Linked DNA regions of Homo sapiens. The protein of the gene in region 3 purifies or fractionates together with the protein of the main gene of each other region. This does not show direct contact. Each region holds a gene or a part of one and is shown on either strand. Other genes may lie near its edges. The genes, in order: PFKL, TOP3A, CEP162, SPICE1, C2CD3, PIBF1 and BSPRY.

What was found.
Region 1: the proteins of CEP162 (region 3) and PFKL purify together in Homo sapiens (affinity purification with mass spectrometry; one large-scale study listed by BioGRID and IntAct). This does not show direct contact.
Region 2: the proteins of CEP162 (region 3) and TOP3A purify together in Homo sapiens (affinity purification with mass spectrometry; one large-scale study listed by BioGRID and IntAct). This does not show direct contact.
Region 4: the proteins of CEP162 (region 3) and SPICE1 purify together in Homo sapiens (affinity purification with western blotting; one large-scale study listed by BioGRID and IntAct). This does not show direct contact.
Region 5: the proteins of CEP162 (region 3) and C2CD3 purify together in Homo sapiens (affinity purification with mass spectrometry; one large-scale study listed by BioGRID and IntAct). This does not show direct contact.
Region 6: the proteins of CEP162 (region 3) and PIBF1 purify together in Homo sapiens (affinity purification with mass spectrometry; one large-scale study listed by BioGRID and IntAct). This does not show direct contact.
Region 7: the proteins of CEP162 (region 3) and BSPRY purify together in Homo sapiens (affinity purification with mass spectrometry; one large-scale study listed by BioGRID and IntAct). This does not show direct contact.

What each region holds. Positions count from the first base shown.
Region 1 is NC_000021.9:44,306,553-44,310,052, reverse strand, and holds part of PFKL (ATP-dependent 6-phosphofructokinase, liver type), read right to left. Parts: intron 3,373-3,500; coding exon 3,299-3,372; intron 2,794-3,298; coding exon of another isoform or gene 2,725-2,793; intron 1-2,724. UniProt on the Homo sapiens protein: Catalyzes the phosphorylation of D-fructose 6-phosphate to fructose 1,6-bisphosphate by ATP, the first committing step of glycolysis.
Region 2 is NC_000017.11:18,283,995-18,287,494, forward strand, and holds part of TOP3A (DNA topoisomerase 3-alpha), read right to left. Parts: intron 1,527-3,500; coding exon 1,413-1,526; intron 1,314-1,412; coding exon 1,148-1,313; intron 1-1,147. UniProt on the Homo sapiens protein: Releases the supercoiling and torsional tension of DNA introduced during the DNA replication and transcription by transiently cleaving and rejoining one strand of the DNA duplex.
Region 3 is NC_000006.12:84,168,644-84,172,143, forward strand, and holds part of CEP162 (centrosomal protein of 162 kDa), read right to left. Parts: intron 3,076-3,500; coding exon 2,963-3,075; intron 791-2,962; coding exon 685-790; intron 1-684. UniProt on the Homo sapiens protein: Required to promote assembly of the transition zone in primary cilia. Acts by specifically recognizing and binding the axonemal microtubule.
Region 4 is NC_000003.12:113,466,657-113,470,156, forward strand, and holds part of SPICE1 (spindle and centriole-associated protein 1), read right to left. Parts: intron 2,583-3,500; coding exon 2,443-2,582; intron 2,244-2,442; coding exon 2,106-2,243; intron 1,749-2,105; coding exon 1,483-1,748; intron 1-1,482.
Region 5 is NC_000011.10:74,031,503-74,035,002, forward strand, and holds part of C2CD3 (C2 domain-containing protein 3), read right to left. Parts: intron 3,107-3,500; coding exon of another isoform or gene 3,096-3,106; exon of another isoform or gene 2,940-3,095; intron 2,777-2,939; coding exon 1,849-2,776; intron 1-1,848. UniProt on the Homo sapiens protein: Component of the centrioles that acts as a positive regulator of centriole elongation.
Region 6 is NC_000013.11:72,788,633-72,792,132, reverse strand, and holds part of PIBF1 (progesterone-induced-blocking factor 1), read right to left. Parts: intron 1-3,500.
Region 7 is NC_000009.12:113,356,041-113,359,540, reverse strand, and holds part of BSPRY (B box and SPRY domain-containing protein), read right to left. Parts: intron 1-3,500. UniProt on the Homo sapiens protein: May regulate epithelial calcium transport by inhibiting TRPV5 activity.

The DNA.
Region 1 (3,500 bases), on a different chromosome or scaffold from region 3:
GCGGATGCCAGCTCAGCTGTGGGCTTCTGCTCCTCCCTCCGCCTTCTCCCCAACCAGGTGTCAGGGCCCTGGGGGCCAGGAGGGCAAGTGCCTCAAGCAGGCAGGGGGTCAAGGGATAGTGCGCGCTGCGGGGCGCATGAACATCCCCACTCTGGCCATGGCGGGCTTCTAGCCTGACAGCCTCCCTTCCCCACCAGCTGGGCTGGGGGACAGGTGCCCCTGCCCCATCTCAGGGGCTGATCTGAGGGACCACAGAGCTACTTCCTCCGGCTCAGGCCAGGCCAGCCTGGCCCCCTCTGGTTGTACCAGCCCTGAGCTAGGAACAAGGAAAACAGGAAAATGATCCCAAACCCACAGCCCCACCTGAGCAGGAGGCCACCAAACACAGGTCTGTCTGCAAAACTCAGGATCCAATACAGAGCCCAGGCGCCAGCCAGGCCCCTGCCCCACTGGGCGGAGGGGCAGGCAGGTATGGCCAGCCCAGCAGTCCCCAGAGACCCCACAAGGCCAGTGGCTCAGTTCTGCTGGAATCAGTCTCACAGACACAACCTCCTCCTACCCTTGGAATCTTCTAGAAGCTGTTTGCCCCCCTCTACCCACTCTGTTTCCGTCTCTGTCCTCCTAGGCCCAGCTCACCTTCCCCTCCTTCCCCTCTAGCCCCGCCCCCTCCTCTCACCCCTGCAGGCCTGGACCCAGGCTCAGGGCCCTCCCTGCTATGCTGTGGGCTCTGCCTGGGGGGATAAGAGTAGCCTGTTCTGAGCCCTCCTTTGTGTCAGAACTGAGAAGGGTTTTCACCTCCAAGGCCACCCTCCCTTTCTGCCCTAACAATAGCCCCAAGGAGAAGGGATCGGTCTCCCTGCTGAAGGAAGCCAGCGCTGGGGGCTCAGAAACCCAAAATGCAGTCTGATGTGAACTGACGCAGCCGCAGGTCTCCCTGACCTCCCCCTTCTGCCTCTCGACCCTCTGCCTCCTCCAAGCTCAGGATGCAGCTGCTCCCTGAAGCCCCCGAATCTGCCTAAAGCCCATAGCTGCTGGAGAAAGGAACAGTGACGGCCAGTCCCCTCCCTGAGTTTCCATGCACTGAGGTCATCGTAGGAAGAAAGACCTGTGTCTGCCAACACACTTGGGCAGGTGGTCACCAGGGCTAACAGATGCTGTCCAAGCCCATTGAATCCCCTAAAAACCATTCATGGCCGTGCACAGTGGCTCGCGCCTGTAATCCCAGCACTTTGGGAAGCAGAGGCGGGTGGATCACCAGAGGCCAGGAGTTCGAGACCAGGCTGGCCAACATGGTGAAACCCCGTCTCTACTAAAAATACAAAAAACAGCTGGGCGTGGTGGTGGGTGCCTGTAATCCCAGCTACTCAGGAGGCTGAGGCAGGAAAATTGCTTGAACCTGGGAGGCAGAGGTTGCAGCGAGCCAAGATTGTGCCACTGCGCTCCAGCCTGGGCAACAGAATGAGACTCTGTCTCAAAAAAAAAAAAAAAAAAAATTCCTACCCCCCTAGAATCATCCAGGCTGCCCATGCCCCTTTCCCTGGGAGGAGGGCAGGTCAGCATCTTCGCCCTACCTCTCCATGCCTATTCACAATGAATGCCAGCACCTCTGCCCTATTAATCCGCTTTTCGCAAGTGGATTCTTCCAAGAACCTTCATGGGACGGAGGGGAAGTCTTCCCTGGGCCGCTATATCAGAATGTCTCATCTCAAAATCTGCCTCTTAGATGTGGATGTTTCTGAGCTAAAGCCCACTAGGCAGCAGATTCAGGGAAGCTCTCAGCCTTGCCTCCCTTTGAGAGGAAAGCAGCACACAGCATCCCAAGACTAAGGCTCCTCCTGTTACCGCCTGGACAGGATGTAAATGCCCCTCACAGCCCTCAGGACCCAGAGACAGCCCCAGGACCCGCGCCCACCCACTTCATTCTTTTTCCCATAAACTCACCCTCCTGCATTCCCCCACCTCCGAGGGCCTCACGCTGCGTCCCTGTACCCCTCGGCTTCTCCATGTGCACTGGTCTCTGCTGGGCTCTGCAGAAGCCAGGACTCTAGGCACGGCAAAGTGCCTCTTCTCCCCTTTTCCAGGACACGCCCTGCACCGATGAACCTGTTTTCTGTCTTTTGCCACAGGAGTCTTTCCCAACCACAAATGTGTGGGGGTTCCGGAAAACCCTAATTTCTCCCCTTTGCCACTTAGAAGAAGAAACTGAAGGTCGAGCAGGTGGCAGGAGGGGTTTGTACGGACACAGCCCAGCCTGCCTAGAGAGGCCCCCACACCCAGCTCCCCAGGGCTCTGAGACCTGCTTCCTAATCCAATACTGGCAGGGCCCCAGCCTGGCCACAGGGAGAGGACGGGCCAGCACAGACTGCCCACTCACTCATTCATTCACACAGTCCTGCAGAGGGAGGGCTGGACAGGCTGCTGTTCCCTGGGGCCAAGATGGGGGAACTGAGACCCAGGGCGGTGAGTGGTCAGCAGCGAGCAGTGAGCAGTGAGGGGGGTGGGGCTGAGTGCCTGGGGCTGCAGAGCTGGGGTTGCTACATTTTATATAAACAGCTACATATTACATAAAAAGTGGCAACAAAATAACAAAAGACCTTGTCTTGTGGAATGTGGAAAACCACCTGACAAGGCAAGAATGCAGCCTGTGAGTGCGTGGTGTGGCCCAAGTGTGTGAATGCGCCTGTGTGTGCACATGTGTGAGCGCAAGTGTGGGTGTGTAAATACCCAGGACGGAGGGCGAGCCCCAAATCTCCCACGGGGACTGGGGCTGAGGCAGTAGGGCATCCGCTGCTCCTGCGGGGACACAATGAACATAGACACAGCAGAGCTGCTGCCAGCGGCTGCCCCCCGGGTCTGGGTGGTGAGGCAGGAGGCTGGGGAGGACAAGGGCAGAGGCGGTGAGGTCCCTGGCCCCCACTCACAGAGGCCTCGGGGCGGGACAAGGGCCAGGCTGGGGGACACCAGGCAGGGGTGTGGTGGGTGGGGCCTGGCCCGTCAGCGATCACTGTAGGCAGGGCCTCGACTCCTTGTCCACCCAGCTCCTTCCCTGCCCCCAGGCCCGTGCTCTGCAGCCTCTGAGCCTCCAGCCGGGCTGAGTCCCAAGGCAGTAGGTCTTCTTTCTGCAGATGCCTTTGGCCTGGCCCCAAGCTCCCCCTCACACTCCCCAAGACCACATACCCATCAGCTCCTCCAGGCCAGGACCACCCCGTCTCCCAGTGTGACCCACACAGAACACACCTCGGCATGCGCCTCAGGAGGTCCCCACTCCCTGCACACACACAGCCCACCTTGGCCTTACCTCGTAGATGAGGAAGACTTTGGCACCCACATAAATGCCCATGCGCGTCACAGCCCGGACAGCAGCGTTCATGCCTGTGGAGGTCAGGGCAAACCTGTCAGTCCCACGCTGAGAAGCAAGGCCCTGGACACCCTCCCCATCTCAGAGGACAGGGGGTAGGGGAGGCCTGGACACCCTGTCCATCTCAGAGGGCGGGTGGTGG
Region 2 (3,500 bases), on a different chromosome or scaffold from region 3:
TGTTTGATTTGTTTTTGTTGTTGTTGAAGAAGTCTCACTCTGTTGCCCAAGCTGGACTGCAGTGGGGCAATCTCGGCTCATTGCAACCTCCACCTTCCGGGTTCAAGCAGTTCTCCTGCCTCAGCCTCCCAGGTAGCTGGGACTACAGGTACGCACCACCATGCCTGGCTAATTTTTGTATTTTTTTTTTTTTTTTTTAGCAGAGAAAGGGGTTTCACTGTGTTGGCCAGGCTGGTCTTGAACTCCTGACCTTGTGATCTACCCGCCTCGGCCTCCCAAAGTGCTGGGATTACAGGCGTGAGCCACCGTGCCTGACCCTTGTTTGGGGATTTTATGGAGGATTTATTACTTAGGCATGATTGACAAATCACTGGCCACGTGTGATCAACTCAACCTCCAGCCCCTCTGCTCTTCCTGAGGTAGGGGTGGGACTCAAAGTCCCAACCTTCTAATCACAGGGTTGGTTCCCTGACAACCAGACCGATCCCAAGGCTACCCAGGAGCCCTTGGCCACTAGTCATCTCATTTGTATACAACAGACACAGCACTTAAAAAATTCCAAGGGTATCAGAAAATGAAGTCCAAATATATATATCTTATTATAAATCATAATATCACAGGTAGAAAACACATCATTTCTAACAAAATACACACATGCTGCTTGCTAAATATCCACCTCTAAATGCTCCAGAAAACAAATGGATCACACTCCAGCACTTGGGTTTACTGATTTAAAAGACTTTGTTGCCTAACTCAAGATAATTAATGTGTCATGTAATTAAAGCAGAAAAAAAAAAGATAATTAAAATCAAGAGAATGGTATTTCTAAAGCCAATAGTTCAGAATAACTGAAGGAGACTGTTCCGATTACTGTTTCTATACTGACAAAGCTCTATGGAGAGTTGTAAAAGAACCCAGAGAAGAAAGTCCAAAGAAAAGGGGTATGTGGAAAACCTCCAGGCCAGGAGGCCACTGGTGAGGATGAATCTGGCAGGGTTATAAACTCTGACTGGCCCAGATGCGGTGGCTCACGCCTGTAATCCCCACACTTTGGGAGGCTGAGGTGGGAAGATCTCTTGAGGCCAGGAGTTCAAGACCAGCCTGGGCAACATAGTGAGACCCCTCTGTATTTCTTTTAAGGACTTACTTCTTTGCTTTAGCCACCGCTTCAATGAAAACCTGCTTGTATTTCTGCACTTGCTGCCTTAGAACCACAAATTTGTCCTTTTTGCCATCACAGATCAGCTTCAGATCAGCTTCCAGTTCAGCCCGGAGGTCAGGCTTAGACATTTCATAGCCCATGGAATCATAACCTGCAGGGAGAGAGTCGAGCTCAGTGAGGGCCCACCTGAGACCCTCAGGGACTTGGGCGACACCACCCACTACCCACTGCAAGCTCTGTCCTCCCTTACCTTCCACAAGTCCCATGCCCAGGTGCCCAGGGAGGAACCGCTTGTCTGGGGTGAGGCCCACGTACATCCGGGCTTTGATGGTCTCGATGTGCTCCGCATGAGTGGCATCCGTACCTGGAAGCCACTTGCTGGTTACTCTGAGGTAATACAGACAACAGCTCCACCCGGGTGGCGCATGGGCACCTTGCTCACCCCGGAATCCCTCCTTTGCCTGGACAGCCTATGCAGGTAAGATGCCTTCATTTCATTCCCATATAGCTCATTCAAGAAATCACAATGGCAACCTCAACTCTCTTGTTCCCTCACATCCCATTACTCAGGAAAGCTGTCAATTCCAGCTTCAAAGCTCTTTTTAAAAATTCTCTTCCCCATGTGTCCAAGCCATACTTGCAGCTTGTGTCCCTATTTCTAGTCTCTTCCTCTACCCTAACCATTCTTTAAGCTGTGGCCAAAGGGACCTTTCAAAATGTAGCTCTGCCATGAAGGAAATGCAAATTAAAACTGCAGTGAAGGCTGGGAGCAGTGGCTTATGCCTGTAATCCCAGCATTTTGGGAGGCCAAGGTGGGCAGATCATCTGAGGTCAGGAGTTCGAGACCAGCCTGGCCAACATGCTGAAACCCTGTCTCTATCAAAAATACAAAAATTAGCAGGGTGTGGCGGCACGCACCTGTAGTCCCAGCTGCTCAGGAGGCTGAGGCAGGAGAATCACTTGAACCCAGGAGACAGAGGCTGCAACGAGCTGAGATGGCACCGTTGCACTCCAGCCTGGGTGATGGAGTGAGACTCTCTTTAAAAAAAAAAAGAAAAAAAAAAGGGCTGGGCGTGGTGGCTCACGCCTGTAATCCCAGCAATTTGGGAAGCCGAAGCGGGCAGATCACGAGGTCAGGAGATCAAGACCATCCTGGCTAACACGGTGAAACCCCGTCTCTACTAAAAATACAAAAAAAAAAAAAAAAAAATTAGCCGGGTGTGGTGGCGGGCACCTGTAGTCCCAGCTACTCAGGAGGCTGACACAGAAGAATGGCATGAACCTGGGAGGCGGAGCCTGCAGTGAGCGGAGATCGAGCCACTGCATTCCAGCCTGGGCAACAGAGCGAGACTCCACCTCAACAATAACAACAAAAAAACAACCAAAAAAACCAGTGAAATAGCAGTTCAGACCTACTGGCAAAATCAAAAAGAGAGATAATACTAAGTGTTAGTAAGGATGTGGATAAACTGGAATCCTAGTGCCTTGCTGGTGGAAATGAAAAACGGTACAGCCACTTCAGAAAAGTTTGGTGGTTCCTAAAAATGTTAAATGTAGAGTTACCAAGTAAACCAGCAATCCCACTCCTAAGTCTACCCAAGAGAAATGAAAACACATATCCACACAAAACCTTGTACAAAACTGTTCACAGCAGGATTATTTATAATAGCCAAAGAGTAGAAACAACTCAAGTGTCCATCAACTGCAACCTCTGCCTTCCGGGTTCAAGTGATTCTCTTGCCTCAGCCTCCCGAGTAGCTGGGATTACAGGCGCCTGCCACCAAGCCCAGCTAATTTTTTCATTTTTAGTAGAGAAAGTGTTTCACCATGTTGGTGAAGCTGGTCTCGAACTCCTGACCTCAAGTGATTGGCCCACCTTGGCCTCCCAAAGTGCTGGGATTACAGGTGTGAGCCACTGTGCCTGGCTCTTTATAGGAAATAACTAAAGTAGGCAAATCTGGCCAGGTGCAGTGGCTCACTCCTGTAATCCCAACACTTTGGGAGGTTGAGGTAGGAGGACAGTTTGAGGGTGCAAGTTCAAGACCAGACTAGGCAACATAGCAAGACCCTGTCCCTACATAAAACAAAAAAGTCTGGCTGGGCATGGTGGCTCAGGCCTATAATCCCAGCACTTTGGGAGACCGAGGCGGGTGGATCATTTGAGGTCAGGAATTCGAGACCAGCTTAGCTAACAGTGAAACCCCATCTCTACTAAAAATACAAAAATTAGCCAGTGATGCGCACCTGTAGTCCCAGCTACTCAGGAGGCTGAGGCAGGAGAATCTCTTGAACCTGGGAGGCGGAGGTTGCAGTGAGCTGAAATCGTGCCACTACACTC
Region 3 (3,500 bases):
TCTTAGGGACAGGGATGATAAAAATCATGCAGTGCATGAATTACTTCTGCTTAAAATAGAACTACCCTGCCTTAAATTCCCAAACTCCTTCTATTGATAAATACTGCTTTAGAAAACTCTAGGCCATATTCTTTATAATACAATTTAATAAACATAAAAAAGTTATGGAACAGCATTGCATTTCAACTTTATGTTAGGTATGTGGAATATAAATACTTGTAAGATACAGTCTCTGCTCTCTAGAAGTGCAGTCTACTTCGGAAGACAGGTAGAAAGCTACTAACTTTTAAAGGTAAATAATTATCTCCAAATTACACTATTTAGGCTGCACGCTTTCAAATAAGGAATTTGTTTGAAATAAGGTATACATGTCCTAAATAAAATCATGCCTCTGATATGGCTCTATGATAAATGCACCTGATGAGATGTGACAAATGCCTGATGAGAGGCTGAATCATAAAGACAATGACATCTAAAAACAGTAATATAATGTTTCCTCTATACTAAGGTCATGTGCATACTATATGCTAATTTAAGATATTTCTCCCTAAGTTTTAAATGGTATGAAATTTATAGATTTTTTAATACATTTCTATGTAATTTTTTAATAAAAATTTGTATAAAAATGGGGATTTTTATAAAACCTTTATTATCCCTAATAGTCAAAATCGTTATGCAACTTACCTGTGCCATCCGTAGTTCTGCTAACAGATCTGTAAAATTCTGATTTCTTGTGGGCTCTGAATCTTCAACTACTTGAGACAGAAAACGACTTTTGTGCATCTGTTCTCTAATTTATTTTGAAAATAAAAAGTTGTTTTTCTTTCTTACCAGGTGCTCCTTTCAGTAGAAAATATTCAATTCTTAAAAATTAAAAACTAACATACATTGAAACTGTATGCATAAATGAAGGTAAAATTTTCATTTAATCTAAAGATTAAAATACTACCATACTAAAAGAGAAATATACTTTAAGGGAAATGCTTATATCTATTCTAAAAGAACTGAAACCTAAGATTATTGGTTTATTTATAATATAAAAATATTAATTCCCAATTCTCAGAGGAAAAAAATTAATCGTCTACAAAGATGCGCTGCATTTTTCTGTGGGGTTGTTAATGCAGTCCTTGTCATATTGTTCTAGAATCTTTTCTGAGAGTCGCCAGTCTCATACATGGAAACTAACAAACAAAACCAAACACAGCCTAATATCTGGACTTTAGATTCAATTTTCCTGTTATTCCAGAGATATTATAGAAGGAGTTTTGGATTCCACATAAGATCATCTAACCCTAATGTACTAAAGAAACCATTTATTTCATTCTGAAAGTTAATTTACAGCTTCAATTTTGGATCCTGGGATAGATCTTCTTTTAGAAGCCAAGTAGTACAAGATAAGATATTTTAAAATAACTTTACTGAAACATCTGGGAAAAAAAGCATAAGTAGGCCAGGCACGGTGGCTCACGCCTGTAATCCCAGCACGTTGGGAGGCCGAGGCAGGTGGATCACGAGGTCAGGAGATAGAGACCATCCTGGCTAACATGGTGAAACTCTGTCTCTACTAAAAAATACAAAAAATTAGCCGGGCATGGTGGCGGGTGCCTGTAGTCCCAGATACTCGGGAGGCTGAGGCAGGAGAATGGCATGAACCTGGGAGGCAGAGCTTGCAGTGAGCCGAGATTACGCCATTGCACTCCAGCCTGGGTGACAGAGCGAGACTCCGTCTCAAAAAAAAAAAAAAAAAAAAAAAAAAAAAGCGTAAGTAAATGCATTCATGCATTACCACTGTGCAGATTATCACACATGGCCTGGGGTTACACTTACCAACTTACAAGGAGAAAGAGGATATATATATATAGTCTGCTACCAAGTGTGTCTTTTTCTATTTTGCCTGACAGATCAGTATGAGCTATTATTAGCAGCCCTGCCTCTTAGGCCCTAGGTTATATAACCAAAAAGGGGGAGAAGTATATAAATAAATTCAGTAAACATTCATGATACTCATGGGTCAGAAACTTCTGAGAACAGTCCTTTCTGAGTGATTAGGTGTTTACATAAAAAGATACACAAATAGTGGTCATTTTCTAAAAGAAGATAGTATGCTAGCTTGTCCATGTTCACGGGCCCAGCTTTTTCACTTAATATGTTAAAGTTGGAAGCAGTAACGTCCAAAAGACCTTATAGTCTGAAATATGATTCCTAAGTAGGTGCTGGTGCTCCATAACCCTGCCATGATAAATGCTGGCTGAAAACAACTTACAGGTGCTCCTTTAAACCGCAGCCCCTGACCCGGCATAAAGGGCAGCCCCTACTCCTTTCCACAGTACACTCCGGCCAGTGACTAAGGCTGCCCCCTTGCCTCAAGCAGGGACCAACTCTGGTACAATTTATTCTCCAGAGCTTCTTGGGAGGAGAATGAAGCCAGTCTCCAGCTGAGACCACTATTTGCCCTCCCCCTACCTCACCGTTCCTGCTTCCCTTGCTCCCTTCTCCTGGGAGTTATCCTTCAGTATATCATCTCCACAAGGACCTCCACCATCTCAGGCTCTGCTTCTATGGAACCTGACCCAAGAAGATCATAAGTGATACTGTATGACCATTCTTTTTTAGTATTATTAATCAAATGGTTCCTTGGGAAATGGTTAATTATCTCATTCTTAATGACTGATCAAGAGGAATACTATATATTCAATTTCCTGAAACTGATGTTTGAATCAGTTATGAACATAAATTCATATGAATTCAAATATGAATATGCTGAAAATACTATCAAGTATGTGCTGGCCATCTAACACCAAAAGAAAAATCCACTGAGTATTAAACATAAAATTGGAAATGTGTACAAATAAAAATAAAATTTTACTATGTCTAAGTAAAAATAAATGTATTATTAACATAATAAGAAAATGCTTGAAATAGTCTAAGTATATTTGATTTTAAGAAGTTCAAAAGGACTTACTTTAAGGAAGCTACCTCACTGAATAAACTTTGGTTTTCCTTAAACATTCGCTCCTCATTTTTCTTGTTTTGTTCTTGGAGATCTTTTACTTGATTATATAATCGTTCATTTTCCTTTTTAAAAACAGAAAACTGCATTTTAGTTAAAAGTCATTAGTACTTATATAACATAATATATGTGCTCATAATAGATTAATCCTTTAAACGGCCTTTTAAGTTTCTTTAGCTTTTGCGTATGTAAAGTCTTTTTTAAACTTTTTATATTATATCTGAAGAAAATTTGGTGTCTAAAAACAGTTCTTTCCATAACATTTAAAATGGCTAATTGAAAAAATAATTTGCAAAATTCCCAAAGCCAAAGGGCCTAAGGTCAGTTTAATGCACTGCATTTCACAGGAGGTAAGTGGGAGAGTGGCTGAAGGAATCACCACATCCTGACTGTGTGGACCCGGGTGGAAAGACCCAGTGAGACCCTTTACATTCTTTTCTGTTTCTGGCTCAAGAGAGGGGAAAAAAAAAATCACTGCTGGAGGAAGATT
Region 4 (3,500 bases), on a different chromosome or scaffold from region 3:
GAGCCAAAAGTATACTCCTGAAGATTCCTGAGTTAAGGGTGAAAGAATGTTAAGGTTTTAATAGGTCTGACAATACAATGAATCTGTCATTAAAAAGTTAATTTTAGGGTCAGGTGCAGAGGCTCACGCCTATAATACCAACACCTTGGGAAGCCAAGGTGGGCAGATCGCTTTGAACTCAGGATTTCGAGACCAGCCTGGGCAACATAGTGAGACTCTGTCTCTACAAAAAAAATACAAAAATTAGCTGGGTGTGGTGGCATGCACCTGTGGTCCCAGCTACTTGGGAGGCTGAGGCTGGAAAACCACTTAAACCCGGGAGGTGGAGGTTGCAGTGAGCCGAGATCATGCCACTACTGCACCCTAGCCTGGGCAACAGAATGAGACCCTGTCTCAAAAAAAAAGCAATTCAATTTTAGGAAGACGGCTCTAGAGAAACTAAAACATCTGTATTAAGGTGGTAAATCTATCTTATTAAATAATAAAGTTTCCTTAAACATTTTTGTCATATTTGTATAACAGGCTTAAGTACATAACAGTTTAAATAGATTTTCAAAGATGAAACACATAGCTAACTCTAATTCTGTGGCATTCTGTGGATGATTATTTGAAATCAAATTAAACAAACAATTCTTTTTTTATTTTTATTTTTTGAGACAGTGTCTTGCTCTGCCGCCCAGGCTGGAGTGCAGTGGCGCGATCTCGGCTCACTGCAACCTCCAACTCCCTGGTGAAAGTAATTCTCCTGCCTCAGCCTCCCCAGAAGCTGGGATTACAGGCGCCCGCCACCATGCCCGACTAATTTTTGTATTTTTAGTAGAGACAAGGTTTTACCACGTTGAGGCCAGGCTGGTCTTAAACTCCTGACCTCAGGCAATCTGCCCGCCTCGGCCTTCCAAAGGGCTGGGATTATAGGTTATAGGCGTGAGCCACCACACCCAGCCAAACAAAGAATTCTTGCTTATTTTATAAATTATTTTTACAACAATAAAACATCTCCCACTTAGACATTGAAGCCATATGTGAGTTACCAGACATACAGGGAACATGAAGAATTCTCCCACATATCAAGTCTACCGATTATAGGCAATGCCACTCTCCAAACTGAATGTGGGAGTAGGAAGCAGAGAATAGCAATAGAATGCAGACACAGTTAACAGTTCTATTTAATCTACAACTGTCAAACAGTAATATTTAATATTAGCACAAGATATAATTATATTAATGGCAGATTTACCCTACTAATTATAATTTGCTAAAGCTCTTATTAAAATTAAAATCACTTATCTGAGCATGTATCAACTAACGGCAGAAAAGACTTAAAGGATAAGCCTTTACTGCAGATAATCTAAAACTGAGGTATTTTAAACGAAGCTATTCAAATTTGACTGTACTTTATTTGGAGGTTGCAATAAATGGAAAGGAAAAAAAACTCATGCATTTCTGCCTGAAAAGAAGACTCTACTAACCTAATGTCCTTACCTCTTTAAGGTACCGAACCAGGCGACAGAGGGAGCTCACCAGCGACAAAGTGAAGCCTGTAAGACCCTGACTGCTCTGCAGACCCTTGACCTCGCGACCTGTCCACCGCTCATATTCTTCCATTTCATGTTCCACTTCATGTATCATGTGTTTGAGGACATCCAGGTTGGAATTAGTCCTATTTGGTAAGTCTGCAGAGGTTGTGCTACCTGATGATATGTTTTTCTTCGGCTTGGAAAGAGCATGCAAATTCGGTTTCCTTTTCACTGATAATGAGAGAAGTCATTCTATTTTAAGACCAGGAAAAATTATGACTAGAAAACTACTAGAAAAATCTTTTGACTATTGTTCACAATTTATAAAAGGCTTGTATAGACGATATCACCATTTCTCTCATAAAAATTAAACAGTTTAAACCAGATTTACACTAGCTATAATGAATGCACTAGAACCACTGTTCCAGAGTTACATGTGGTAGGAGACATTTCTTAGCTACCATTCAATAAACTTTCAGTTGGAACCATGTGGATGAGATTAAGGGAGAAAAACATTGACTAAGAGATTAAGACAGCTGTATCAAGTTACATGTTTAATATTCATCTTTGTAAATTAAGGGACTGAACCTTTATTTAACAGCTGTTTTTGCTTCCTTGAGTTCAGCACGTGTCCCACAACGTAGCTTGAGTCTAGAGTCTCAGTAGATTCTTCAGGCTGAAGCCTGGTTTGGAGTCTCTTGACAGCATTGGTAGCATTCAGAGCAGCTAAAAGGAAGAACATTTCCAAAAGTATCTCAAGTGAACAAACTTCTTAAGAAAGTATTTCAATTGACAGATCCATCAGTATTTTAGTCAATTAGGCAAAGGCAGTCAAAACTCAAATAACATTCCTTCAAAAATTACTGCATTCAAGAATGAACCTAATAAAGCAGGCACCTAGAAATAATGCAAAAGGGAAACAAACCTCTTTGCTCCCCTGATGAAAGAGCAGATGATGGCGTTCCTGGAGGAGTTATTTGTGACTGGGTTGCTATTTTCTGCTGAATGTCAGTCCACAACTTACTAATTAACTCAAAATTCTCTTCTGTTAGTTGTTGGAGAAACCTATAAATTACAGGACAATAAGCTACATGAGAATTATAATATAAATTAATATAATATAAATATAAATTAAATGATAGCAGGCATTTAATTTATATTTACATTATCTATATTATTATAATTTATATTTATATAATTATAAATTTAATTTTATATATAAATATGCATATAAATTTAATTATAATTTATAATTAAATTATATAATTAATTATATATAATTATATAATAATTACACATAATTATAAAATATATTCTATATTACATGTAATTTAATTTATAATTTAATTATATAAATTAAATTATATTTATATCTAATTTATATGTATATTATATTAATTTATATAAAAAATAGGTGCTATCATTTAAACTGTTCAAATAGTTACATGTTTGATTTGAAGGAGCTTTTAGTAATTCATAGTCAAAGAAAAAACACTATTCACTATAACTGATAAGACAGGTAGATAGCAAAAATGCCTATCACCTTAGTGTTAGAAAGAATCATTCCATCTGCCTCCCAGTTTCCTACCTACCTTGGTCCCTAACATAGGTATGTTTGCCCTTTCTGCAGTTTTGTGGTATGGCTCCATCCTCCTCTCTCTTTCTCTAGAGTAAAGTAATTAAGCATATATGGCTCAGCCCCTTTTGGTTTCTCTGTCCTACAAAGGAGCCTGTCCACAGAGCAGCCAGTCTCTGCTCATCAATGAAGTAAATTGACCACAGCATACTCTGTCCCTGTGTGTCAGGGAGGGGCTAGATAGAGTGAGAAGAGATGCTGCAGTTTAGGGGTTAGTAATTACAAGCACATTGGTTACAGAGCTAAGCGTTATGCTATAAACACTTTTATCACTGATAAGGTTGATATTTTAATTTTCAACTGTCTCATTTGTCTATTTCTCAAAGTGCTAAAGTTACAGCCTACCT
Region 5 (3,500 bases), on a different chromosome or scaffold from region 3:
CTTACTGGGATGGCTCCAAGTAGAGTTAGGGCAGCTCCCTCCTCATGGTCCCTCGCGTTCTGTCCACATCTCATCACAGTACTTGGCACAATAAACTGTCAGTATCTATCTACTTGACTGTCTCCTATCTCATAATGGGAACTTCTCGAGGTAAGGTCTCATTCAAATCTGTCCTTGGCACCCAGCACAGGGCCTGGCACGATTTATTTTTGAAAGAATAGTCAGGAAGGCCTAAGTTAAAGCAGCACTTAGGGTCTGGGCACATGTGGCATCTCCTCCATCGGCCATATTCTGAGCACAATTAATACTGACTGCAAAGGCAGCAACATTAGGGGCCAGGATCCAGGATGGGCAAGGCCAGGGAGAACTGCACACAAGGAGGTCTATTTTCAAAGCTCAGCCTCCAGCCATTGCATGCTTTAATCCTTTCCTGAGCCCACTCTCCCACCCCTAGGTTTTTCTCTGATCTGCATCAAGAATCATACTGTGTGGTGTGTACAAATGTTTCCACTCATTTGGTTTTCTCAACAATGTTGTGAAACTGTGATAGTTCAATCCAATCTACATTTACCAATCCCTTCTCTGTGTAGTGCTAGGTCCTGAGGATGCAGAAAAAGACAAGGTCCCTGACCTGGGGAGCTTATAATTTGGTGGGTAAGGGATTTCCGCCTCCATTTTACAGGTGAAGAAACGTGCACATAAAGATTAAACTATATGTCTATAATCACAAAAATAATTTTGTGGGTCTAGAAGGGTCAAAGTCAGGCTCCCTGACTTCTAGTAGAGGAAGATCTCTAGTCTAGTAAAGCAGCCTGCTTCACCTGCCAGCCGTACAATATTCCCTGCTTGTTGGGATAGCAGGTGAGCTGATCTGATCAGCTGGTTAGGCTACAGGTGTGAAGGCTGTAGATGGTCCTAAGTGGTTTCCTTTCCCCATAACATGCCAGTCTGTGTTTAAAAGGAAGGAGTGGGGAATGTCAGGTGCCCCCTGTTCCCATCAACAGTACCTTACTGGGGACTTGGGAAAGTCCATCTCCATGGTGCCTGTTTAGCTCCATCACTTCCTTTTTTAAAAAAATTTAATCTGGCCAGGCGTGGTGGCTCAAATGCTCTAACTGCAGCATTTTGGGAGGGTGAGGCAGGAGGATTGCTTGAGGCCAGGAGTTTGAGACCAGCCTGGGTGACACAGCAAGACCCCAACTCTTAAAAAAAATTAGCTGGGTGTGATGCTGCATACCTGTAGTTCTAGCTACTTGCAAGGCTGAGGTGGGAGGATCACCTGAGTATAAGAATCTGAGGCTGCAGTGAGGTATGGTAATAACCTTGTACTCCAGCTTGGGTGACAGAATAACCTGTCTCTTAAAAAAAAAAAAAGGCAAGTCACAATAACTGAGCATCAGTTTCCTTATATATGCAAAATAGGGATGATACCTACCTAAAAGACTTGTGATGACTGAATGAAAAATGTACATAAAGTGCTCAATGGCAGTGATTTTCTTTCCTCTTTCTCTAGACCCTCTGCTTCTCTTTCAACTGATAAATAGTCTCATTCCTTAGATCCCAAGCCTTGCCTTCAGGTGGTAAAATACCCAACAGATGAATTGGATAAATCAGGGTAGGCTAGGCTAATGTGCTACGAATGCCTAAACCCAGTTCAAGGCATTATGTTTCTGAGGGCTGGTGTTAATGGTAAAACTGTAGCACCTGTCATGCAGGTGGGGTCTTCTGAAGGAATGGTCTTTCCATGCCCCCTAGTGCATTCCATGAGGGTGGCCACTTGCTCACACTCACACTAGGCTAGTCTAAGTACCTGCATCCAAACCACTTGTGGGAAATGCCAAAGGATACAGCAGGAGGCTCTGCTTTGTGGACGTCTCTGATCCAGTTGTCACCTGCCTCTGCCTGATGTCAGAGGAGTCGATGGGTGGTCCCTTATGGTTTTCCCTTCTGCTCTGGGAGGCTAGATTTAGCGGCAACTTCTTGAAGCTATCAGCAGAGTCACCGAGCTCACTGGTGGCAGCTTCATTCTCAGCTGGGGCCTCTGACTTGGGCTCCTTGTTCTGATCTGTCTGTGGTGAGCTCCATCCAACAAACGTGCTGCTCTGTTGAGCTCCTGAGAGTGTTGGGCATGGGATGGGCTGAGGGTTGGCTGAGGCAGACTCGCCACCAACCCTGGCCTTAGAGGCCTCACACTCACAAGCAACAAGACTTTGGCTAGGAGAACCCTGCCTAGGCAGGTGGGGGTTGACAGCCCTTTCTGGGCTGGAGAGAAAGCTACTTTTGACCATAAGCTCCTCTCTGCAGAAAGGCCCTGGAGAAGGACAAGAGGGGCCTTCCCTCTGCACCTCGTCAGGCTGAGGGCTGATGACCTCACTTGTGTCTGATATGACACTAGACCAAGGGCTAGTTTTGTCTGTCACCGTGGTGATCTCATTTAAGGTCCTGGGCTCAATGATGTCTTCTTCATAGTCCTCATCACTGTAGGCTGGGCCTGCCTCAGTGTCTTCACTGCTCTGCATCCTTGTAATGGGTACTGCATGCCTCAGGGACTCATGGAGCATTCTTCCTCCATTTGAAGTCTCTTCGAGAGGAGGGGGTGATGGGGAATCTGTGCCTTTATCTGGAGCTCTTACCAATGGCTCATCTGGCATTGTGCATCGTTCTTGCAGTGCTTCTGTGTCCTGAGCATCTGGGAGGGTGGTGGCCTTGTTGCTTCTACTCCTGGCTCGGTGAGAACTCAAAGCTGCTTGCGAATCCCTGGTGATAGTCTGCAGATCTGAACAGCAACACATATCACTCTTATTACAAGGTAGGGCCACAGACCCCTCAAATTTCCCACACTAGCCTTTAGCTTCAGAAGCACTATGGCAATCAGACTCTGAACAAACCATAAAGAAAATTAGTCCACCCAAGATTCAGTGAGACTATATTCAAGGCGGTACAATTTTTAGTACTTTATTCTAATATCAGAGGACCAGAATCTAATCTATAGTTGTGGATACATCTGTGGAAATGCTTTCAGAGACTATCTGCTCATGCTCAGGAATCGTTGGGAGCTGGGAGTCCTGGTGGGCATGTTCATGCTTCCAGTTACTTCAGTAACTACCTATATTAAAAATCAAAATGAGAATCCACTTATTTACCTATTTGATGACAGTTATTAAAACTACCTATTTTACTTCGAAAATAAAAGCAAGGAAATATCTATCACCCATATGATAAGGCAGGGAAGATTTACACAGAAAATAGAAGCAGCAAGGTATGTTGGAAAGAGCATAGGCTTTGGAGCCGGTCAATCTTGGGTTCGAATCTCTGTTGTCACTTGTTAACTTTGTGATCATAAGCAAACCATCCTCTCTGAGCCTATTGATCTGTACAGTGTAATCAACACCACCCACTTCATAAGGTTACAGTAGAGAATACACGAAAGAAATGGGCATACACTGTGTGGTGAATATATAACCACTTAATAAACAGAAGCTACTAGTCATCTCAAATTA
Region 6 (3,500 bases), on a different chromosome or scaffold from region 3:
GTAGAGACAGGGTTTCACCATGTTGGTCAGGGTGTTCTTGAACTCCTGACCTCAAGTGATCAGTCCACCTTGCCCTCCCAAAATGCTGGGATTACAGGCATGAGCCACCGCGCCTGGCCTCCTGCCTCCAGTTTTGCCAACCTCCAAATTTATATTCCTCTATCTTACCTTTAAAAAATGCTATCAAAAATTTATTTTCAGCTGGGTGCGGTGGCTCACGCCTGTAATCCCAGCACTTTGGGAGGCCGAGGCGGGCAGACAACTTGAGGTCGGGAGTTCAAGATAAGCCTGGCCAGCATGGTGAAACTCCATCTTTACTAAAAAATACAAAAATTAGCCAGGCATGGTGGCGGGCGCCTGTAGTCACAGCTACTCAGGAGGCTGAGGCAGGAGAATCACTTGAACCTGGAAGGCGGAGGCTGCAGTAAGCCAAGATTGCACCACTGTACTCCAGCCTGGGAGACAGAGCGAGACTCCGTCTCAAAAAAAAAAAAATTATTTTCCTAGTTTTACATTCTTCAGAGGATCCTCACTGTCCTCAGAATAAATTCTAAACACTGTGGCATAATACAGTGGTATTTCTTGATCTAGCCAACTACTTTTGTCATTAGCTTAAAAGGAAACTCCATTTCAGCCAATATTAAGTGCTTGCCATCCCCCAAGTATGCTGTGCTTTCTCAAGCACTTGGATTTTGCTCTTAGTCTATTTAGAAAATTCTTTATTCCCTTTGCTTTAACCAAGACGATTCCTGTTTGCCCCTTAAAATACATGAATTTCAGGCAGGGCGTGGTGATTCACACCTGTAATCCCAGCACTTTGGGAGGATGAGGCGGGTGTATCACAAGGTCAGGAGATGGAGACCATACTGGCTAACATAGTAAAACTCTGTCTCTACTAAAAATACAAAAAATTAGCCGGGTGTGGTGGCATGTGCCTGTAGTCCCAGCTACTCGGGAGGCTGAGGCAGGAGAATCGCGTGAACCCGGGAGGCGGAGGTTGCAGTGAGCTGAGATCATGCCACTGCACTCCAGCCTGGGCGACAGAGTGAGACTCCATCTAAAACAAACAAACAAACAAACAAACAAACAAACAAAAATACATGAATTTCACAGCCAATCCATAACATATGCAAGTAAATCCCTCCTCTTGCATCGTCAAGTCCCTCTTCTCTACTGAATCATTCTATCATCAAGCAAATGGTCCCTTGATCACATCATTCTCTTTGCTATAGCACCATTTCTCTGTTGGTCTTCAGAGCAAAACTTCAATATAGTTTTTGCCCCATACTATTCCAGTGAAACTATTCTTGTTAAAGTCCATAATGTCCTGTGCATTGTTTTTTTCTGCCTATTTATCTTATTTGACAGCATGACTTGATACAGCTAACCACTTCATTCTCTTTTAGCTTCCATGATACTCTTCTCTAGTTTTCTTAACTCACTAAATACTCTTAAGCTTTCTAGGCTCCTCAGCTGGACTACCCCTTTGACTTACTTTATAGCCCTCTGTTCTCCCTAGGAAATACCATACAATCCCATGGCTTTAGGTGCCACCTATATGCTGATTTATCTATCTATCTATCTATCTATCTATCTATCTATCTATCTATCTATCTATCTATGTGTGTGTGTGATCTATCTATAAGGGTGTGTGTGATCTATCTATAAGTGTGTGTGTGTGTGTGTGTGTGTGTGTGTGTGTGTGTGTGTGATGGACTCCTCCTAAACTCTAACTGACAATTACATTTAGGAATCTATAAGTTACACCTTCAAAACTGAACTTATTAATATATTTTACCTCCCAGATCAGTTTTCTCCCAGCCTTCCATTCTTATAAATGGCCCCAGTTAAATAAGCCAAAAACTTAGGAATGTAACTCTTCTGTTTCTGTCTTGTCTGCCCTTAGTCTATTATTTTAGTGCCATTTTGAATACAGAAATCAGGACATGTAACTCTTAACTGCTAAACTTTGCCAATAGCTTTTCTGACTACATAGTCTAAAGCAAGAATTAAAAAATGGTGATGGGCTAAATCCAGCCCATAAGAAAAATCTGATAGAGCATAGGTGGCCTACAAAGCATAAAATATTTTCTGTCTTGGCCATAAGAAGGGGGACCTCTGTCATATCCATTGGCATATATCCAGCAACATCTCAATAAATAAATCAATATAAAATGTAAAATAAACACATTCCTTATAATTACTGTTTCCCAAATCAAGAATACTGTTACATGTTGAGCATCCCAAACCCTAAAATCTGAAATTCAAAATGCTCTGAAGTCTGAAACTTTTTGAGAGTCACTATGACACTCAAAGGAAATGCTCAGTTGACCCTTTTGGATTTCAGACTTTCAGATCTGGGATGCTCAACTGGTCTAACACAAATATTCCCAAATTAAAAAAAAAATCAAAAATCTGAAATATTTCTGGTCCCAAGCATTTTAGATAAGAAACAACCTGTATCACGAGGAAAAAAAAAACATTTTTTTCAGGGTTTCAATGTTTATAATTTCAATTAACTTCTAAATTGAGTCTCTTAACTCAAGGACAAGCTGGGAAATGTATTCATTTCCCAGGTAATAAGGAACCCACAGATCTCTAATGAGAGATAAATAAAAAGAGTTTGGGGCATTTAAAAATTTTAAAGAGCTCAATTCTGTGGCTCAGGCTGTAAACCCAGCACTTTGGGGGGCCAAGGTGGGAGGATTGCTTGAAGCCAGGAGTTTGAGACTAGCCTGGACAACATAGTGAGACCCTGTTTCTACAAAAAAATTAAAAAAATTAGCTGGGTGTGGTGGTACACGCCTGTAGTCTCAGCTGCTCAAGAGGCTGAGATGAGAGGATTGCTTGAGCCCAGTAATTTGAGGCTGCAGAGAGCTGTGATCAAGCCACTGCACTCCAGCCTGGGCAAGAGAGTGAGACCCTGTCTAAAAATTTGAAAGGCAAGAACAGAGAAGAGGAAAGGAATAAAGAAGTACAGTAAGGAAGGGAATCTAGGCAGCAATAGATGGAAATAAAAGTGTAAAGCTAACAATGCTCTACTATCAGGAAGTTTGGCCTGAATAGCTACTCTTCTGAGTAGCTTTTCTACATTCTTTCAGTTAACAAGCAGCTGAGTGGGAAGTGCTTTTAAAGTGTTCTTGGACCTGCTTGTTCCTGTTTTTAGACATGGAGAATTCAAATCAATACGGCCAAGACTATTCCTAGTAACAAACTATAATAAAGCCATGTATCCATAACCATTTGTATTGGTGCCACAATGGAGTGGGACATGTTAGATTCAAATATTTTCTAACTAAAAAAAGATTTTGATGGGTAGAAGAAAAAACTTACTTGCCTCCCAACATCAAACCTTCCCTTCTTTCTGACATACTCTGGTTTTTATTAGTAACAACATGTCCAGTTAGCTTCCCATCCCTTGTAGGTAGGGGTGGTCATGCTATACAATGTTAGTCAATTGAGGCCACTGGCTTGAACTTCTGGAAGAACTCTTTAAAGAG
Region 7 (3,500 bases), on a different chromosome or scaffold from region 3:
GCCTCCTTCATGTCAGAAAGTCAGGGACAGCCAGCAGCTTTCCCTATGCCCTGTCCCTTAAGACCTGCTTTGTACAGTGCACAGGGCAATCATTCCTATTTTACAGAAAACACTGAGACCCACAGTTTGCCTTACAGGGAGGAGAGACTAGCTAAGTGAATGGCAAGTGAACCCAGAAGGTAAGACTCCAAGTTTATAGTGTGCTCTTGAGGCAACATAACATAGTGGTCAGGAAATTAAGCTTTAGAGGTAGTGTGTAGATTTAAATCTTAACTGCTCCGCTCATTAGCTGTGGAACTTAGAACATATTCCTTATCTTCCCTATGCCTCTATTTTCTAATCTGTAAAATGAGGATAATAATAGTACCTACCTCATAAGGCTATAGTGAGGGTTAAATGTGTTAATATATATAAAGTAAGTAGAACAAAGCCTGCTACATTATGTGTTCAATAACATTCATTCACTATTGCTCTTCTTTATCTTTTTTTTTTCTTTTCTTTTCTTTTCTTTAAGAGACACAGTCTTGCTCTGATGCCCAGGCTGAAATGCAGTGGCACAATCATAGCTCACTGCAGCTTTGAACTCCTGGGCTCAAGCGATCCTCCTGCCTCAGTCTTCCAAAGTGCTGGGATTACAGTCATGAGCAACTGCATCCAGCCCACGATTATTCTCCTGTTTATCCCACTTTAATGCCTTACCCACAGGGTGAGCCCCTGAAACCATGGTTGTACTGTGTGATCCTGGATCAAAACAGATCCTCACCCAAGATGAATCAGATTCTGATTCCTGCCTAAAAGACTCTAGTCATTCTCAACAAGTTTGTTGAGCCATTCCCAGAAAAGGAGAGCAAAGAAAAGAAAAACTTCCCTTTCCAAACACATGACAGAGAGTAGACAAACCAAAAACCCTCTCAGAATAAAGTAGAGAAATGCTGGAAAAATAGCCCAAGCATCCTTTTAAAAGTGTGGTTGTGGCTGGACACGGTGGCTCATACCTGTAATCCCAGCACTTTGGGAGGCTGAGGCAGGTGGATCACCCAAGGTCAGGAGTTTAAGACCAACCTGGCCAATAAGGTGAAACCCCGCCTCTACTAAAATACAAAAATTAGCTGGGCCTGGTGGTGGGAGCCTGTAATCCCAGTTACTCAGGAGGCTGAGGCAGGAGAATTGCTTGAAGCTGGGAGGTGGAGGCTGCAGTGAGCTGAGATCGCACCACTGCACTCCAGCCTGGGTGACAGGGCAAGACTCTGTCTCAAAAAAGAAAAAAAAAGAGGTTTTTATTTTTTGTTTTTTGAGACAGGGTCTCGCTCTGTCACCCAGGCTAGAATGCAGTGATGCAATCATAGCTCACTGCAGCCTCAAACTCCTAGGCTCAAGTGATCCTCTCACCTCACCCTCCCAAATAGTTGGGACTATAGGCCCATGCCATCATGTCTGGATAATTTTTTAATTTTTTGTAGAGATAGGGTCTTGCTATATTGCCCAAAACAGTCTCGAACTCCTGGGTTCAAGTGATCCTCCTGGCCTTGGCCTCCCAAAGTGCTGGGATTATAGGCATGAGCTACCATGCTCAGCCCAATGAATAAGCTTAATAGAGATATATATATATATATATATATATATATATATATATATATATATATATATATATATAGAACTCTACAGGCCAGGCACAGTACCGGGTCATGCTGGTAATCCAAGCAGTTTGGGAGGCCAAGGCAGCAGGATCACTTGAGCCCAGGAGTTCAAGGCTGCAGTGAGCTATGATTGCGCCACTGCATTTCAGCCTGGGCAATGGAGTGAGACTTTGTCTAAAAAAAGAGAAAGAAATAATAATGAAATTAAGACAAAGATACAAAAGAGTAGACCAAAAATACTAGAAGCTGGTTCTAAAGACTAACAGTCAAACCTGTGGCAACTTTGATCAAAACTAAGAACAACTTTATCTTAAGTAAACCCTTAAGAAAAAAGAGTTCTGTTTTCCAATCCATTGAATAAGGCTCACATAACCTTGATACCAAATCTGATGAGGACTGTACAAGAAATGAAATTCATAGACTAATCTCACTCCTGAGCATACAAGCAAAAATCCTAAAACAAAAATAAAAAATGCTTTACTGAGATTAGCAATCCAAATTCAGAAATTTTGTATTAATAATACAAGGGGATAGGAAAGGGTACATGTGGCTATAAAAGGGTAGCACAAGGAGTCCTAGTGATGGAACTGTTCTGTATTTTAATTGTGGTAGTAATCACATGAATCTATGCCTGTGATAAGATAGTTAAATAAATATACACCATTTGAGAGCAGTGATCTCTCCCACCTCCTTGGAACCCATGCTGGGACACTCTGCTCTCTTAGTTTACTTCCGTTTCATTAGCTGATTTCTTGGTCCCCGTTCGCTGGTTCCTTCTGTCTTCTCAATAGGAGGTGAAGTGCCCTAGGGCTCAGTCTTTGGACCGCTGCTCTTTCGTGTCTACACTCATTCACTTAGTGATGTCATCCTCTCCCACGGCTTTCAATACTATTTATACACTGATAAATCCCAAATTTATATCTCCAACCCAGCCCTCTCCCAACTCATATATGCAGCTACCTACTCAGCACCTTCACTTGGATGTCAAATAGGTATCTCAAACATAACATGCCCACAACAACTTAGCATGCCTGCTCTCCCCCACTCCCCTCCCTGCCTCCGCCAACCATCACTCCACATGCAGTCCTTCCCCCACCCAGTTCATGGCTGCTCCATCCTGCCAGTTGCTCAAATAAAAAAACTTCAGCATTATCCTGACACCTCCCCTCTTTCTTTCATAGCCTACATCTAGTCCATCAGCAAATCCTGTTGCCTCTTCAAAATATATGCAGAATCTAGCCACTTCTCACTAGCTTTGCCACCATTGCTTGGGTCCAGACCACACTTGTTTCCCACCTGGATTATTACAATGGCTTCCTAACTGGTCTCCCTGCTTTAACCTTTGCCGCCTATAATCACTTCTAAACATAGCAGCCAAAGTGTTTCTTTCTTTTTTTTTTGAGACAGAGTCTCGCACTGTTGCCCAGGCTGCAGTGCAGTGCGCAGTCTCAGCTCACTGCAACCTCCGCCTCCCGGGTTCAAGTGATTCTCCTGCCTCAGCCTCCCAAGTAGCTGAGAATACAGGCGCCCGCCACCATGCCCTGCTAATTTTTTTGTATTTTTAGTAGAGACGGGGTTTCACCGCGTTAGCCAGGATGGTCTGGAACTCCTGACCTCGTGATCCACCCGCCTCAGCCTCCTAAAGTGCTGGGATTACAGGCATGAGCCACTGCGCCCAGCCTCAACCTTCTTAATGAAGTCATTCCTGGTCACAGCACATGTAATTGCAACCCGTCCTATTCCCCTTTCTGTTTTATATTTCCCCATAGCACATATCACCTTCGGACATAACATAGATTTTGTTACTGTCCCTCTTCTGTGACAAGAATGTAGGCTTCATGAAAATAGGAATTTCTGTTTTGT